Linked DNA regions of Homo sapiens. The protein of the gene in region 2 purifies or fractionates together with the protein of the main gene of each other region. This does not show direct contact. Each region holds a gene or a part of one and is shown on either strand. Other genes may lie near its edges.

What was found. The genes of interacting proteins can lie anywhere in the genome.
Region 1: the proteins of NEK3 (region 2) and KATNB1 purify together in Homo sapiens (affinity purification with mass spectrometry; 2 studies listed by BioGRID and IntAct, with this or other methods). This does not show direct contact.

Annotation. Positions count from the first base shown.
Region 1 is NC_000016.10:57,738,770-57,746,531, reverse strand, and holds part of KATNB1 (katanin p80 WD40 repeat-containing subunit B1), read right to left. Parts: intron 4,846-7,762; coding exon 4,715-4,845; intron 2,139-4,714; coding exon 2,021-2,138; intron 1-2,020.
Region 2 is NC_000013.11:52,155,758-52,164,681, reverse strand, and holds the start of NEK3 (serine/threonine-protein kinase Nek3), read left to right. Parts: upstream 1-5,084; 5' UTR 5,085-5,139; intron 5,140-5,226; exon of another isoform or gene 5,227-5,484; intron 5,485-7,335; exon of another isoform or gene 7,336-8,433; 5' UTR 8,434-8,490; coding exon 8,491-8,607; exon of another isoform or gene 8,608-8,924.

The DNA of each region.
Region 1 (7,762 bases), on a different chromosome or scaffold from region 2:
TCTCCGCTCAGCCCAGAACTGAGGGCATGAGTTTCCAGACCACAACCGCATGAAACCAGTGACGACCTAGCACAGGGTGGAAGCAGACCCACCCCAAGGCTCACCACACCAGAACACTGGGACAAAGACCCTAAAAGCCTGCAGAGACAGAGAGAGAGAGGAAAGAAAAGAGAGAGAGAGAGGAAGGAAGAGACAGAACATGGAATGAAGCCAGTCCCCTGTGAAGGATCTGGGATCAGAACAACACCGGCCCCTCCCAATAGCAACCTAGAACCTAAAAGGCAGAAAAGCTGCACCTTCCAAATTCTGAGGGCGATATTTTATTGCCAACATAGAACTCTATACTCAAACTCATAAAACAAACACAAAAGCAAATGATGGGGGTAGCAGAAAGTCATTTTCAGCCATGGAAGTTCTCCAAAACTATGCCTTCCCAGCACATTTTCTCAGAAAGCTACAAAAGAATGTGCTCCATCAAAAAGAGGGAGAAAACCAAGAAAGGTTGCGGCGTGGGACCAGGAACAACAGATGGAGAGAATTCCCCAGAGAAGAGACACAGAGGCCCAGGATGACAGCTGGGCTGCAGGTCACTAGGACCAGAGGAGAGGCTCTGAGAAAAGGCGCCTGGATTATGGGATGGGTTTCAAAGAAACAGGAGGAGCTTTACTCTTCTGGCAGAGAATTTGGGGATGAATGAGTAATATGGACATAGAAAACACACAGATTAAAAAAAAAAAGGAACTATTATTAACTCCAGGGAAACCAAGTTATTAAAAAGAAATAGTCAGTGGTAAATGACACTTATGCGTCCTTACATTATAAACACCACCTATTGAAATGGTGCTACTGGGAGGGTGGGAGGAGAAACACGAGCCATGGGGCTGGGAGTGGTGCCATGAGAGAGCTAAATTCTCATCCTTTACAGTAGGAAGAGAATAACTAATGTGTTAACTTTTTTTTTTTTTTTTGAGATGGAGTTTCGCTCTTGTTGCCCAGGCTATAGTGCAATGGTGCGATCTTGGCTCACCACAACCCCCACCTCCCGGGTTCAGGTGATTCTCCTGCCTCAGCCTCCCAAGTAGCTGGGATTACAGACATGTGCCACCACACCCGGCTAATTTTGTATTTTTAGTAGAGATGGGGTTTCTCCACGTTGGTCAGGCTGGTCTCGAACTCCCAACCTCAGGATGGGGTTTCTCCACGTTGGTCAGGCTGGTCTCGAACTCCCAACCTCAGGTGATCCGCCTGCCTTGGCCTCCCAAAGTGCTGGGATTATAGGCGTGAGCCACTGCGCCTGGCCACGGTGTTTTTTAAATAAGAAAAGAAAGAAACTGTGGTATGACCATGTGGTCTAGAAAGGTGGAGGCGATCAGCAAAGCACAGACGAAAGCACAGAAAGTTTAGGCTCATGGAGAATGGGAAGGAGTGGGGCAGAAGTTTCCTCTTTCCATTGAAATTAATTGTAGAAATACTGGTATTTGAGGTTTTAAATTTTAGGCTATGTACAACTTCTATACAGATGAAAACTAAATTAAAACAGAGCACAAGGAAACAGATCTGGCCATTCCAGGCTGCCTCTAATGGCACCAGGGAGCCAAGGCAGAGTGGGGACCACCTGGAGTCAGGGTACAAGCTCCCCGGTTCTTCATGGCTGTCCCACGCAGCCACCTCACTCATTCATGTGACCTGCAGGGCCCCTGGCGGCATGTGACATCCCTCTAGGTTCTAAACACACACACACACACACACACACACGTGCCCGCAGACACACACATCCAAACACACATACATCCAAACACACACACACACACACCCGCACATCCCCCCACCCACACGAGGCAGCAGTGCATGTCAATGCCAGGCTAATGGGGGTGGAGTGGGTGCCACACTGCCGGGTTAGTGCTCCAGGAGCAAAGCAGCCAACGTAGTCCAGGCAGGCTTCCTGGAGGAAGCAGTACAACTGCAGAGCCTGAAGACTAAGGCAGGTGTGCGTGCACAGGAGGCAAGCTCGGAGGCCTACTTTTGGCAGCTTCCAGGTCCCAGACACGGATGGAGCCCGACTGAGAGCCGGCCACGATGAGCTCCTCGGGGGTGTTGAGGCGGACGCTCTCCACTGGGGATGTGTGGCCCGTCAGGCTCTGTGGAGAGAGAGCAGCAGCTTCCGTGCACTGCTGGACAGACCCCTGCAGTTGCGCCCTGAATTCCAAGTCCCCCGGAAAGGCTTCAGCAAGAAATGGCTAAGGCAGGAGGGGGAGCCCCATGGGGGCCACAGCCTAGCCCTCCTGCAGGCCCTTTCTGAGCACCTACTCCTCTCGGCCTCAGCTCCCAGGGCTAAGAGTGGCCAAACCCCAATCATCCCCCCACCACCTCCCTCTTCCCTGCTGTGCTTCTGACATGGGCGTCACCTGCAGAAATGGCCCTGGGCCCCTTGGAGGGGAGCGACTGGACAAGATAAAGGGATGCTGTCCCTTCAGCCCTAAGTTAAGCAACCCTGCCCCCGCTCTGTTCCCATCTTCACTCTGCCCCAGGCAAGCCCCTCAGCGAGGTAAGCCACAGCGGAACCAAGGCCTGCCTAGTCCTGGGCACACATCTCGCCCCTCTAGAACCCCTGGCTCTCCCTGACTGCCCATCCCCGTGGAAAGGAGAGGGCTGTGGCGGTTGGAGGAGGGTGGAAGACTTTTCACTGTGGATCCTCTATCTTTTGGATGTTGAACAGAATAAGTGTATCCCATACTCAAAAATAAAAATAAATCCAAGTGGACGGCCTGCAGGGGGACAGCGTGCACAGAAACCCCAAGGGGAGAGAGACCCCGGCAGGCTGGAGGCACTGCGAGGCCTGGGAGGCTGGTGTGTGTGAGCCAGGGCAGGGGCCCGGGGTGAGGCCGGCTGGGGCCTGACAGCTGCACCTGGCGTTCTAAAACAAGCCTGCAGGCCAGGCCCCAGACGGTTGGCCCCGTTTCTCTGGGGGTCGTGGCATGTCCTATTTTTGGTCAGTCATTGGTGATGCTTTTTCAACTTGTGTATGCTACTACTTTGGCATTTCATGGGGGTAGAAAACACATTTGAATCCTAGAAACAAAGTAAAACAAAACAATTCAATTCATCATTACTGACCCCTGGCACCCTTGCTGAGGCTGGGGTGGATCTCAGTTCTCCCCCTGGATCTCAGAAAAACACTGAGGTGATTAAGTTTCTACTAAGAAATTCATCCTTTGCCATATTCTTTTTCTTTTTCTTTTGAGATGGAATCTTGCTCTATCACCCAGCCTGGAGTGCAGTGGCACCATCTCGGCTTACTGCAACCTCCGTCTCCCAGGTTCAAGCGATTCTCCTGCCTCAGCCTCCTGAGTAGCTGGGACTACAGGTGCCTGCCACCACGCCCGGCTAATTTTTGTGTTTTTAGTAGAGACAGGATTTCACCATGTTGGCCAGGGCGGTCTCAAACTCCTGACTTCAGGTGATCCACCCGCCTCAGCTTCCCAAAGTGCTGGGATTACAGGCGTGAGCCACTGTGCCCGGCCTATTCCTCTTCATCTTTATTTCACCAAGAGTCACAACAATGATACTCCCTGGTTGGCAAGGGATGGGGGTTGGGGCAGGGAGGAAAGGGCAGGTTCCGATGCTGCTGGTGAGAATGTAAAATGATTTCTGGGGGGCAATTTGGCAATCTGTTTTGAAAGCTTTAACAAAAGCACACACCCTTGGATTGAATGCAGTGATCACGGATCTGCTCAAGGATCTAGGTGGCTGAGGATGTTCACCACAGGGTGCTTTAGCAGAGCCAAAAAAAGCCGGAAACAACCTCTCTGCTGATAACAGGGTGTGGCTAAGCTAATTACGGCTCATCCCTACAATGGAACACCATTAAGCCATTCAAAATTATGTTGTAAAAGAATACTTGTTGACACAGGCAAATCCTTACAACATTGTTATTTTTAAAAACCAGGCTGCACAAGAGTGGCAGTGTATTTTTATTTATGTGTGTGTGCTTGTATGAGTATTTGTGTGTATACATGTGTACATGCATGTACAAGTGTGCACTTACGTGCATGTACACGTATATGTATCTGTCTCAGCATCTAGAAGGACTCACACCAAAACACCAACTGTGGTGGCCTTTGGATAACGGAACTATATGTAGTTAATTTTGTGTTTTCTCCTTTATGCACTCCTATTTGGAAAACAGTTTCCAGCATTGAACATATAGCTGCATAAATAGTGGGGAGATGCTATTTAAGAACTAGCTCCCTAACCAGCTCCAGCCAGGTCCCCTCAAATCCTCATTGGGGAATGAAGGCTGGGAATGAATTAAAATAAACGCCCACATGTTGCTGCCAGGCAGGCAGATGGGCAGGTGGGAGGGGAGGGGTACAAGTCTTTTGGCTCAACCACAGGCCCAGGGCTTATTTTAATCTTCTCACGCAGCCTGCCTGGAGTTCTTAATAGTACCACAGGCAGGTGACTCCCTCGCTCCTGAGGGCTGGCCACTGTCCCAGCCATGCTGGGCTGTCCTGGGCCTCACTGAGCAGACAGCTGGGGGAAGCACTGATGGTGTCCCCACCACGCCCCCTCCACCCCTGAGCTGGGCCCCAGCGGATAGGGGGCCCTGGGCTCAAGAGAGTCTGAGAAGCTGCTCACTCTTCAGCCTCCAACCCCTGTCCCCGTCCCCTCCCCAGGCCCTTGTCCTGACCCCCCGCCAGCTGTCGGGGCTCACCATGATGCAGTTGGGCTTGTTGATGGACCACAGGTTGACGCGGCAGTCATCCCCGCCTGTAGCCAGCAGCCGCCCGGAGGCTTTGCCCAGCACCAGTGAGGACACGTTGCTGGCATGCGCGACGATCTCTTCTACACAGGGAAGGAGAGGGAGAGGCCATCAGGGCGGCCCGATGGGGCCTTGTGAAGGAGGGGTGACCCTGCTCGGCTACCCGCTTTGGAACCTGAAGCCCAGTGGAAGGATCTGCCTCCTTCAGCTCCCCCTTTGGTGTCCACCATGAGCTGCAGGACCAGCAGACAGGGCAGGGCATGGGCCTGAGACGGAAATCACTGTTTCTCAACTTTCATCATGCCTGTCTTTCCTACCTTTAGACTTCACGATTTTCTTCCTGTTTCTGCATATCACCTGGTAATATTGACTAGTTATACGCAATTTTTAAAATTGACTTGCTATTTTTATTAGCTTGGGCTTAAGCAATGTCCATGAAATTACAAGTTTGATATACTCATGATACTCTTTCTATGATACAAAAAGAAAAACAATTATTGAAATAAAAAAAATTGACCCATGCACTGCCTACACACCTCTCAGCTGCTGCTTGTGTGTACATACAAACCCTGCTTTGGAGAACACACTTTAAGAACAACCGAAGTCACCTCTAGACAAGCTGCCCCCAGGTAAGCCTGCACAGGGCTTCGGCTCAGATTCACAATCACGGATCAGGTTCTGGTCTGAGGTCTGTGATCTGCTATTGCGTGGCCTTGGCTACTAGGTCACTTGTCCTCTGAGGGCCTGGCTCCTCGTCTGGAAAGTGGGGATGCCCGTGGTGTCTGCTCACACCTGATGCTGAGGACTCCCTCAGAGCGCGCCTACGTGCTGCTTAGTAGCAGGCGAGGGCTCCGTGACATTGGGCAGGCTCGGGGCTAGTCACCATGAGAGAGTGGGCATGGGGGCCTGGGCGGGCACCAGAGGGTGGGCTTCATGAGGAGGGGGCAGGAGGCAACAGACTGAGCAGCTGGGGTGGGGGTGAGGGCTGACCACACAGAGGAGGAGCCTGTGCAGACAGCCCAAGGCCCTGGCCTGGTCCGTGGAGATGGCAGACAGGAGCCTCGGAGGACTCCGCAGGGAGCAAAGCACAGGCAGGGAACCAAGAGGCGGCCCGGGCCTCAGAACCCATCCCTGCATGAGCTCCTCCTGGAAAGAAGGGAGAAAAAAGACAGTTCTCCCCACACAGGCCAGGGGAAAACCCCAAGGTGCTGACGCCCCGAGGCACCCGGAAGGCCAGCGTGGGTGACGCCAAGGAAAAGGGTGTTGGAGCCACGGCGCTCCACAGAGGCCCCTCCTGCACCCCAGCTCCGACTCCACCCTGCCTGGGTGTCTCTGCTGCGGGCTTCAGACCACAAGGAGGTTGGGAAACTGGGCCCAGGGAAGCTGCTTGCCAGAAACCTGGGCTCCAAGGGGCCACCAGGAATACCCAGGGGACAAGTCGCAGGCTGAATCTCACTGATGACACCCTGCCTCCTGGGCCGGTCGGGGCAGAGCCAGCACAGGCAGCAGCGCCAGCAAGGGCGAGGGTTCCCTGTGGGCCCAAACCTGGGCCAGGGCGCTGGGAGTTCGCCATGGGGATCCCAGGGAGCTGGGCCCCACTTTAGTCCCGTCTCGATGAGAGCCTTCTGTCCTCTGGACACTGTCGGGACAGAAACCTGAGGAATTCCAGCCACAGACGTGTCTGTTCAAGGTTTCCACCTGACCCAGAAAGAGGGCAAAGCACCTTCTCCCTGGCATTCCGTGCCCGAGCCTGGTGTCCTCTCCGTGGAGGCACTGCTCGCTCCCCCTGGCCTACCTGGAGGGCTCTGTCTGTCCCCTGGCCCTCACTCCTCCCAGGGAAAGTGTCTGGCTGGGCCCCACCTCACTGGGCCTCAGGACTGCTGCCCCTGGAGTCAGGGGCATTCATTCATAATATCAGTATTTCCTGGGTGCCTGTTCTAGGCCTTGCACGAAATATGCCCCAGTATAATCAGATGGTGGTGGGGGCGGGACACTGAGCTGGCAAAACCGCAGACTTTGGAGTGAGAAAGATTTAGAAGTTGGGCCCTTCTGGAGGAGCCCACATCACTCCCCTCTAAGCAGCCTGACCAGGGACTGACTGGAGCCCACAGAGGGAGGGCAGAGGGGCAGGGACACAGCACAGGCACCTGCAAAGGAGGCACGGGGCACCACCCCAAGAGCTCCTCCTTCATCCTGGCTTGTTGGACAGCAACCAACAGCCCAGGCCGAATACTTGATTTTCATACCAAAAATAAAAAATAAAAATCCTCAGTGTCTACTGGCAGGCCAAGCTCTGGGAGTACAACCTGGGCCCCACATCCAGCCAAAGCTGGGGAACATGGTGCGGCGTGGCCAGAGGGGCTGAGGATCAGCATCCCAAATGCAAGATACAAAGTACTAGGTTTCAACGACCTCATGTGGGCCACGCACCTCTGATCCTCACCAGACCCTGGAGCCACAAGGAGCCAGAGGTCACGTGGCCCTGGGCTCTTCAGAGTTGATTCCCACGGACACCACCGTGCACATGAAATCAGCAGCAGCAGCAGATGCCCAATACGCCTGATCTCATTACCTCCTGCTCGCACACACTGATGGCTTGGCCTTGCCTTTATGATAAAGCACGGCAGCCTCAGGAGGGCTGGGGTCCTGAGAACTCAGTAGGTCCGTGCGGCCCCACATTCCTCCTGCTGCTGTGCCACTGCCCATGGCCTCCCTTGAGTCCTTCCAATACACTGAGCCTCCTGCCTCAGGGCCTTTGCACTTGCTGTTCATGCAGCCTGCAGCATTCCCACCCCACCCCTACCCCTACCCCCCAGCTAACTGATTCAAAGCACAGGCACCAGCTTGCAACTAGAGGAGACACAGAGGGATACGGTTATCCAGTTCCTGCCTGTTGCTCTCCCCAGGCTCTGAGCTCCCGCTGTACAGAGACCTTGACTACTTTGTCCCCCAGTGGCTCCCCAGTGCCTAGCTCTGGGGAAAGGCCAGCTGTCGAAGGGA
Region 2 (8,924 bases):
CAAGACTGTGCTACTGCACTCCAGCCTGGGTGACAGAGCAAGACTGTCTCAAAAAATAAATTAAAAAAATAAAATCTCTGTATTTCAAAGTTAAGCTAATTTGGTTTCTGCCTCTGAGAAAAAGGAAGATGCCTCAAGCATTGTCTTTGGTGGATATGTGGGAAACTTCATTAGAAATAATCTAGTCTTCACCATTGTGTTCCTAGGTCCTAGCCCTTGTGGCTGCCATAGAGTAGCAGCTCAATAAAATTTGTTCAATAAATGACCAGCTATTCAAAAGCTTTCCAGAAACGGGAACACAAACTTCTACAAGAAACAAAAGGCATGCTGGCATTAGATTGATCATCAGCTGCACTAAAAATGGTGGAATAATAGCTTGAAAGTTCAGGGGGAAAATGATTTTCAACTTGAGACGCCTCTACCCAGTCAAATTACTTGCGAGGGCAATATAAAGACATTGTTACACATGCAAAGACTCAGAAAGCTTACCTGCCAGACACCTTTTCTTAAGGAGGAGTTATTAGAGCAGGTACTCCATCAGTAAAAGAGCAGAGTATCCTGAGGAAGCCATGGGATTCAGGCAGCTGCAGATGTGACTCAGAATGTCAGTTTTGTGGGTGACTAAGCCACCAGTTCATATCTGAGCAAGAACGGGGGATCCAGGAAACAAAGGTATTTCATGGAATATACAGTTGGAAGAACTTGAAGATATACTTCAGGCAAAGAAAAGGAAAATAAGAAAAGTACCTAGAAATTATATTTCCTAAAAGACTCTACAAGAAAATCACAATACAAATATGAGTTAAACTGAGTCATCAGTGGGCTTTCAAAAAAATATTCCAAGAAAATAGAATGGGTAAGATGGCACAGATTTCTTTCAACAACAAAAAAGTACTAGGCAAAGCAACAACAACAAAGTAACCATGATTTTGAGAAACTGAACAGCACAGGGTTGAGACATTGTGATTACACAGGAAAATCAGGCCCAGCAAACTGCTTAGCTCTGCTGTGGACCAACATTTTCATAATGTTAATGCTGCTTATTGGTTATTGTCTATTAGAACCAACTTATAGAAGACTTAGGCCGGGCGTGGTGGCTTATGCCTCTAATCACAGCACTTTGGGAGGCTGAGGCAGGCAGAGGTCAAGACCATCCTGGCCAACATGTTGAAACTCCGTCTCTATTAAAAATACAAAAATTATCTGGGCGTGGTGGTGCACGCCTGCAGTCCCAGCTACGTGGGAGGCTGAGGCAGGAGAATCACTTGCACCCCGAAGGCAGAGGTTGCAGTGAGCTGAGATGGCGCCACTGCACTCCAGCCTGGCGACAGAGCGAGACTCCATCTCAAAAAAAAAAAAAAGAAGACTTAGTTACAGAAGGGAATATAAATGTTATCAGTTGTGGAAATCTAAGAGAGTACAGCTTTGAAAAGTTTGGAGGTACAGAGGTTTGAGGCTGCAATGAGCTATGATTGCACCAGAGGTACTCCAGCCTGGGCAACAGAGGGAGGCCTCATTTCTAAAAAATAAGAAATTTGGAGGTAGAAGCAGAGGTGGGGAGTTCAAGGGAAGTAAGAGTTCTTCCTATCATGAAATGGAGAACCAAGAGGCGCTGTCTGTATTTAATAGAACTAAAAACAACAGTTTAAGGATATTAAAGTTACTAAAGTGAACAATAGGACTAAATCATAGTGTTAACTACCATGTGCACCTTAGGGGGGTGAATTAAGCTGACTTTTTATCAGTCCTTGCAAGAGTCAATAGTGTCACAAAATAGCAGCTTAATCCTATTCATACAGTTGAAGATCATCAGGAGAATTTAAAACCACAAAGGTCAAAGTGGTTGCCCTTTGGAAGTGGGACTGAAGCTGGGGAGATAAAAAGCAAGGAACAATTGCTTTTTGTTCTAGGTCTTCCTCTACTCAACTTTTTTTTTCCCCTTTGACAAAACAAAAACCAAACATAACAATCCTGGTGAGGGTCAGAGATCATCTATTTTAATGCCTGGAAATATATTCGGTGAGTCATCTTGTGGCTCTTAAACCAAACCGAAGTTAAAAAGTATAAGAAAGTCTATATAACTGTAGACTACAAAGCAGTTAATACAGAGTGAAAACTCCCAGTCATCTCAGGAGAAGTGGCGTTTTATTATTTCTGGATATATCCAGAAGCTCTCCTGGCTGGGTATCCACAGCTTGGCAACAGCTGCATAAAAAGGGGGCCAGACCTTCTCTCACCATCCCCTCTCCCTACCCTCACCAGTCTATTCTTACTGACTTACAGGTTGAATTGCATCCCCCACAAAATATACGCTGGAGTCCTAATGTGCAGTACCTCAGAATGTGATCTTATTTGGAAATAGGGTTGTTAAGGATATAATTAGTTAAGATGAGGCCACACTGGGGTAGGATGGTCCCTCAATCTGATATGACTGGTGTCCTTATACAAGGGGAAATTTAGACTCAGAGACAGTACACATAAAGGAAAGGCAATGTGGGGGAGAAGAAGGCCATCTACAAGTCAAGTACAGAAGCCTGGAACAGATCTTTTCGTTCCAGCCCTCAGAAGAAACCAACACTGTCAACACCTTTATTTTGGACCTCTAGCCTCCAGAAGTATGAGATAATAAATTTGATTAAACCATTCATTTAGCTTGTGGGACTCTGTTACAGCAGCCCTGGCAAACTAATACACCGATGGAACAAGGGAAAGAATCCCTTTCATGACTGCCATCATTGGGTGGGAAAGAAAAGCATTAAGCACCTTTGTCATCTTCTCCCCTGATGCTGTCACAAATTTAATCTGATAGAAATCTGTCTTTTGCTCAGTTCTCAAGAGCAGCATTCTGAGTACAGGCATGGGCAGTATTTTTTTTTTTTTTTTTTTAGACAGAGTTTCGCTCTATCACCCAGGCTGGAGTGCAGTGGCACGATCTTGGTTCACTGCAACCTCCGCCTCCCAGGTTCAAATGATTCTTATGCCTCAGCCTCCCGAGTAGTTGGGGTTACAGGCGCCACCCACCATGCCCAGCTAATTTTTGTATTTTTAGTAGAGACAGGGTTTCACCATGTAGGCCAGGCTGGTCACGAACTCCTGACCTCAGGTGATCTGCCTACCTCGGCCTCCCAAAGTGCTGGGATTACAGGCCTGAGCCATCGTGCCTGGCCTTCTTTGTTTTTAATTGAAACTAGTCTTTGTATAGAGTACAAAGAAAGCAGTGCAGATGTTGTAAATGTTGATTTGTAGCATTTCCCTTCTCTTATCACCACACTACAGAATAGTTGTACATTAACTTTGACATTGTGGAAGGAAGGCAATTGGAGCTGGCCAGAGCAAAGCCATTTTGTTCCTGAATGCCATTTTACAACTGCCTGACTGCAGAATGTACTTGCTGATGTTGCAGACAAAATTGCTGCCATTATGAAAAGGACTTCATGCTGAGGACTGAACTTTTCTCAAACCCCTGAATCAAGGACTTTTGCCTAGAAACCAATGAACTGTCATGATAACGCTTTATCTTCAATCAAAATAGTGGGTTACGAAGGTTATGGATGAACTAGTGAGAACTGACTTCTTACTTCCTTTAAAAACCCTACCCAAAAATAGCTGGTCAGGACACAATTCAAATGCTTCTGGAATCTGTGTTCCTTGAACTGCAATTCTCAGACTGCCAATAAACTTCTTTACTTGGATTTCGGTCTCTCTGACTCTGGTTGACACGTTATAATGAACACGTTCAGCGCTTACAAGTAAAGGGTAACCAGATGTTGTTCACAGTAATCCTATGAGGTAGGTTCTATACTTTTATACAGAGGGATTTAGTTACTCTGCTGTATTAGTTTCCTAAGGCTTCTGTAACAAACTGTGACAACCTAAGTGGCTAAAACGACACGAATTTATTACCTTACAGTTCTGAAGTTCAGAAATACAGCTCACTGGGTTAAAATCAAGGCGTCAGTGTGCATGGTGGTTTTCCTGTAGTCCCAGCCACTCAGGAGGCTGAGGTGGGCGGATCGCTTGAGCCCGGGAGCTCAAAACCAGTCTTGGCAACATAGCAAGACCCTGTTTCAAAAAACAAAAAAATCAAGGGGTCAGCTGGACTGTTACTTCTGGAAGCTCTGGGGAACAATTTGGTTTTTGTTTTTTGTTTTTCCCTCCTTTTCTAGCTTCTCCTCCTTTTCCACCTCCCACCTCCTCCTTTATATATATATATATATATATATATATATTTTTTTTTTTTTTTGGAGACAGGTTCTTGCTCTGTCACCAAAGCTGGACTGCAGTGGTGGGATCATGAGCCCTCTCCAGCTCTAGTGATCCTCCTGCCCCAATCCCCCGAGCAGCTGGGACCACAGTGCCCGTCGCTATGTCTAGTTAATTTTTCGTAGAGACGAGTGTCTCACTATGTTGCCCAGGCTGATCTCGAACTCCTGGGCTAAAGTGTTCCTCTCCTGCCTCTGCCTTCCAAAGCACTGGGATTGCAAACATGAGACACTGTGCCTGCTCCTCTTCCAGCTTCTTGAGGCCAGCTGCATTCCTTGGCTGTTGCCCCTTCCTCCACCTTCAAATAGCTTTCTCATACTGACCTTCTTTTTGGGCCCCTTCCACTTTAGAGAACCCTTGTAATTACTTTGTAATTACCCAAGCACACACTCCAAGATCGTCACCTTATTTTAAAGTCCGCTGATAAGCAACCTTAATTCCATCTGCAATCTTAACCCCCTCTGCCAAGCAAGAGAACAAACGCACAGGTTCCAGGGAGTAGGATGTGGACATCCTGAGGCGGAAGCATTATCCCGCCTTCCACAATTGCCCAAGGTCACATAGCTAGTAAGTTCTAGCTAGCACTGAGTGCTGTGCCCGTGAAATTTATCTACATAGGCTTTCACTTAACCTGCAGACAGAACTCAGTTAGTCGGGGACAATTTCCCTCAATGTTAACAGCACTGTTCCACCGCAACGTGGAACAACAGCTTTAAAACGTGCTCTTCGTAGGCCCGGCTACTCCAAGAACAGTGCCTCCCGCCAGACCCAGGCGGCTTCCTTCACCCGCAACCCGAGAGACGACCCGCCGGGCCCGCCCCGCGGAAGCCGCCGGTTGCCAGGCCAAGGAGTGGACTAGGGTCGCCGGGGAAGCGGGTGAGTGGTCCCCGCCCTGGCGGGCTGCCTCTAGAACGAGGAGGGCGGCGCGTGGTCGCGGCGCGGAGCCGAGTGGGAGCGAGGGGTAGACGCGCCCCGGACGCGCGGCCGCGCCCCTCACTTCCGCCCCGCGGTCTGGACCACTCGCCGCAAACCCGCAAGTCCCTCGCCGCCTTGGGGTCTGGGCGCGCGGTGCCGTGGGGGTCAGCAGGGCGGAGCGGCTTTTCCAGGAGAAAGGGCCCTCACGGGTGAGCGGGGCGACTGGGCTCCCCCGCGGTGCAGTTGCCCCGCGGGCGCCGGCCCCGGCTCAACGGATTCTTCTCGCTCGCTGCCCGGAAAGAACCAGTGAGAACCGCTGTTGCAGCAAAAAAAGAAGTTAATAAGCGCAGGGCTGGCCAAACCAGAACAGGGTCTCAGACCTGTCTCCCCGAGAATTCGGGGGCGAGGGTTTTAAAGGGCATTTTGGCTTCGGGGGGCTGGGGAACTGAAACAGTTGACCGGCTGGGGATGAAATCACAAGAGCTTCTGAAACTCGGGGCGGCTTCGTTGGTTCCCAGGAAGGGGTGGGGTCAGTTTCCCTTGTCTTGAAGTTTACACGAAATCCCTCTCCCAGTTATCCTAGCCTCTGTGCTAGAATAAGAAAACGACAACACGGTGAAAACTTAGCCCGTGAGGTTAGAAGCAAGATGGAGTCAGTCATGTTAGATTTCTCGCATTACTTATACATCTGTAAAGGTGGTTTCAGGGACCTTTCTGAACTTAGCCCGTATCTCACTGGTGATCCCACTTCTGGGTATTTGCAAATCACTTTATTAGGTTTTTAAAAGTATTGTTGCAGGCATGCGAAGGGGCCGATATACTTTTGCCATGTCCAGAGTGTATTCAGGTCTTGTAATGATCATATGGGTGTAATATTGAGTAACAGGCAAATGTGGGCAGAAAATATCAAATGTGGTTTTCAGCTAAGAAGTCTGGTTGCTCTTAATTTTCAGTTACTCTCCATTGCATAGAATAAAGCCCCGAAGAAACGAAGAATAAGATCATGGGGAAACTTGGCTTCCATGTTAAACCGTGTAATACCAGGTGTTAGAATAGTAGTAAAGGACTTGTTTCTTTCACATCTATATACACTCAAAAGACCTCATCGATCTTGGAAAAACATTGTTTCGAAGACAATGTGTATGACTGATTTGGTTATATGAAGAAATTATTTCTAGGATTTCCTGGTAATTCTGTGATAAACAGTAATACAAACTGGAATTTTTACAGGTCACTATAGTAGAGGTTTTAGTTTGATTTTTGCTTTGCCTGTCATGCTCTCTCTGCCTTATAATTCTTTGTGGTGTAATTAAAAAACGAACACTAGGGCCGGACGGGGTGGCTCACGCCTGTAATCCCAGCACTTTGGGAGGCCGAGGCGGGCGGATCATCTGAGGTCGGGAGTTCGAGCCCAGCCTGACCAACATGGAGAAACCGCGTCTCTACTAAAAATACAAAATTAGCCGGGCGTGGTGGCGCATGCCTGTAATCCCAGCTACTCGGGAGGCTGAGGCAGGAGAATCACTTGAACCTGGGAGGTGGAGGTTGCGGTGAGCCGAGATCGCACCATTGCACTCCAGCCTGGGCAACAGGAGCGAGACTCCGTCTCAAAATAAAAAACAAACACTGTAAGCTTTTTGAAAAATCAAGTAAATTCATTACAGTGTTTTTCCTGCAATGAAAAAGAATGCATCACTTCCCTAAGGTTTTAATAATCATAATAGCTGCCAGTTATTCAGGACCTTGTATGTACCAGGCAAAGTGTTAGGAACGTTTTATCCATTTTCTCTTATGTGCTAAGCAGTCCCGCTAGCTGCTTCATCCTGGAAATATAGATGGGAGACTGAAGTCAAGGACTCCAACTGTGTGTTTAACATCTCTCTTGACTCCCAGGAACCTCCAGTTTGGCATGTCCAAAATGAAACACATGTCTGTCTTCTATCAATATGTTTTGCCCAACCCCTGCAACACTCCCACTTCCAGAAAAATCACACAAACAAAAAACCACACACACAACCATTGTGCCTTTCCTCTCTCAGGGAGTGCCAAGAAACCATCTGGTTCATGCCAGAAACTTGGGAGTCAACCTTGCCCCCTTCTCTGCTTGCCCCCCATAAATCTGCCACCACAAATCCTGTCAACTGTTCTTACATCTTTCCTTCCCATTTTTTCTGACCCCATTGCCTCCACTCTATTCCATTTCATTATTTTCCTGCCTTTTCTATTGTTGGAGCCTCCTAACTGGCCTGTGTCTCTGAGCTGGCCTTCCTGCCCCTCCTCCACTGGTCCATTTAATCTGCAATCTGAGTGAATGTTTTTTCTAATATGCAAATATGATTATATTGCCTTCTTGGTTAAAATGCTTCAGCAGCTTGTTACATTCTTCTTTCAATTTCTTGAACTGAATGTAATTTCTTTAGCTCTTAAATATGCAATTTCCTCTTCCTTGATTACTCTTTTCCTCCTCTTTGTCTAGCCAAGTTTCATTCATCCTTCAGGCTTCAGCTTAAATAGCCTACATTTGTTGAGGTTTATGGTTATCTCTGCATGGGATGTCCACGTTGGCAGGGACTATGAGAGATTTTTCAGATTATAACATCTGACTCAGAGTTGGTGCTCAGTGTCTGCCTGTTGTATGTAGTATAGGGGAGGAAAAACATTTTTTCTCTGCCCTCTTAGGTTCAGTAGCTGGGCCCTGCAAAATAAACTGATGAAAGATAGATTAACAGGAAAAAAGGTTTATGCATAAATGTAAAGAAGTGGTTAGACCAGGGGGCTCATATGCCATTTTAACAAAGAGTGATAAATTATAGAGAAGTAACTAGACAAAAGTAGGGGAATGCTTCTTGGGTAAATTGTAGGAAGGTAAATATATGGCGGAAGCTAACATAAGATAAGGGTTATTCAGTAAAGTTTGTTATGTGGACTCAAGTTGGTGCCTTCCCCATTGGTAAGAGTTGCTCTCCTCTTCCTGGTACTGGAAAGGAAGACACATTTACAAATGGATATTTATTACCTGTACATAGGAAAATTTATGCCCTGCATTTATACAAAAAAGGGAGGGCAAAGAGCAAATTGGTTTCAGCTCAAAACAATTCTTACATGAAAGTGGCATATTTTGGGGTAGCATACACTGATCCTCTTCAAAAGGAATAATTTGCTTTTCTCTTATCATGGTTATGAGAGCTACTTTGAATTAATTTTTGCTTTTTGAAAGTACATTTAATTCTCAAATGTTTCTGCTTTTGAATGCAGTTTGGGAGAGCCCATGGTGACTGCGTGAGTGGAGCCCAGCTGTGTGGATGCCCCAGCATGGATGACTACATGGTCCTGAGAATGATTGGGGAGGGCTCCTTCGGCAGAGCTCTTTTGGTTCAGCATGAAAGCAGTAATCAGATGTTTGCCATGAAAGAAATAAGGCTTCCCAAGGTCACTACTAAAGAAATTAGCTCACTTTGAAAGTATACATGCAGTTTATATAAAAGAATAAGTTTTTGGCCAGGCACAGTGGCTCACACCTGTAATCCCAGCACTTTGGGAGGTGGAGGCGGGTAGATCACCTGAGGTCAGGAGTTTGAGACCGGCCTGAGGTCAGGAGTTTGAGGCCAGCCTGGCCAACATGGGGAAAACCCGTCTCTAGTAAAAATAATAAAAAAAAAATTAGGCAAGTGTGGTGGCCTGCACCTGTAGTCCCAGCTATTCAGGAGGCAGAGGCAGGAGAATCACCCTAACCTGGGAGGCAGAGG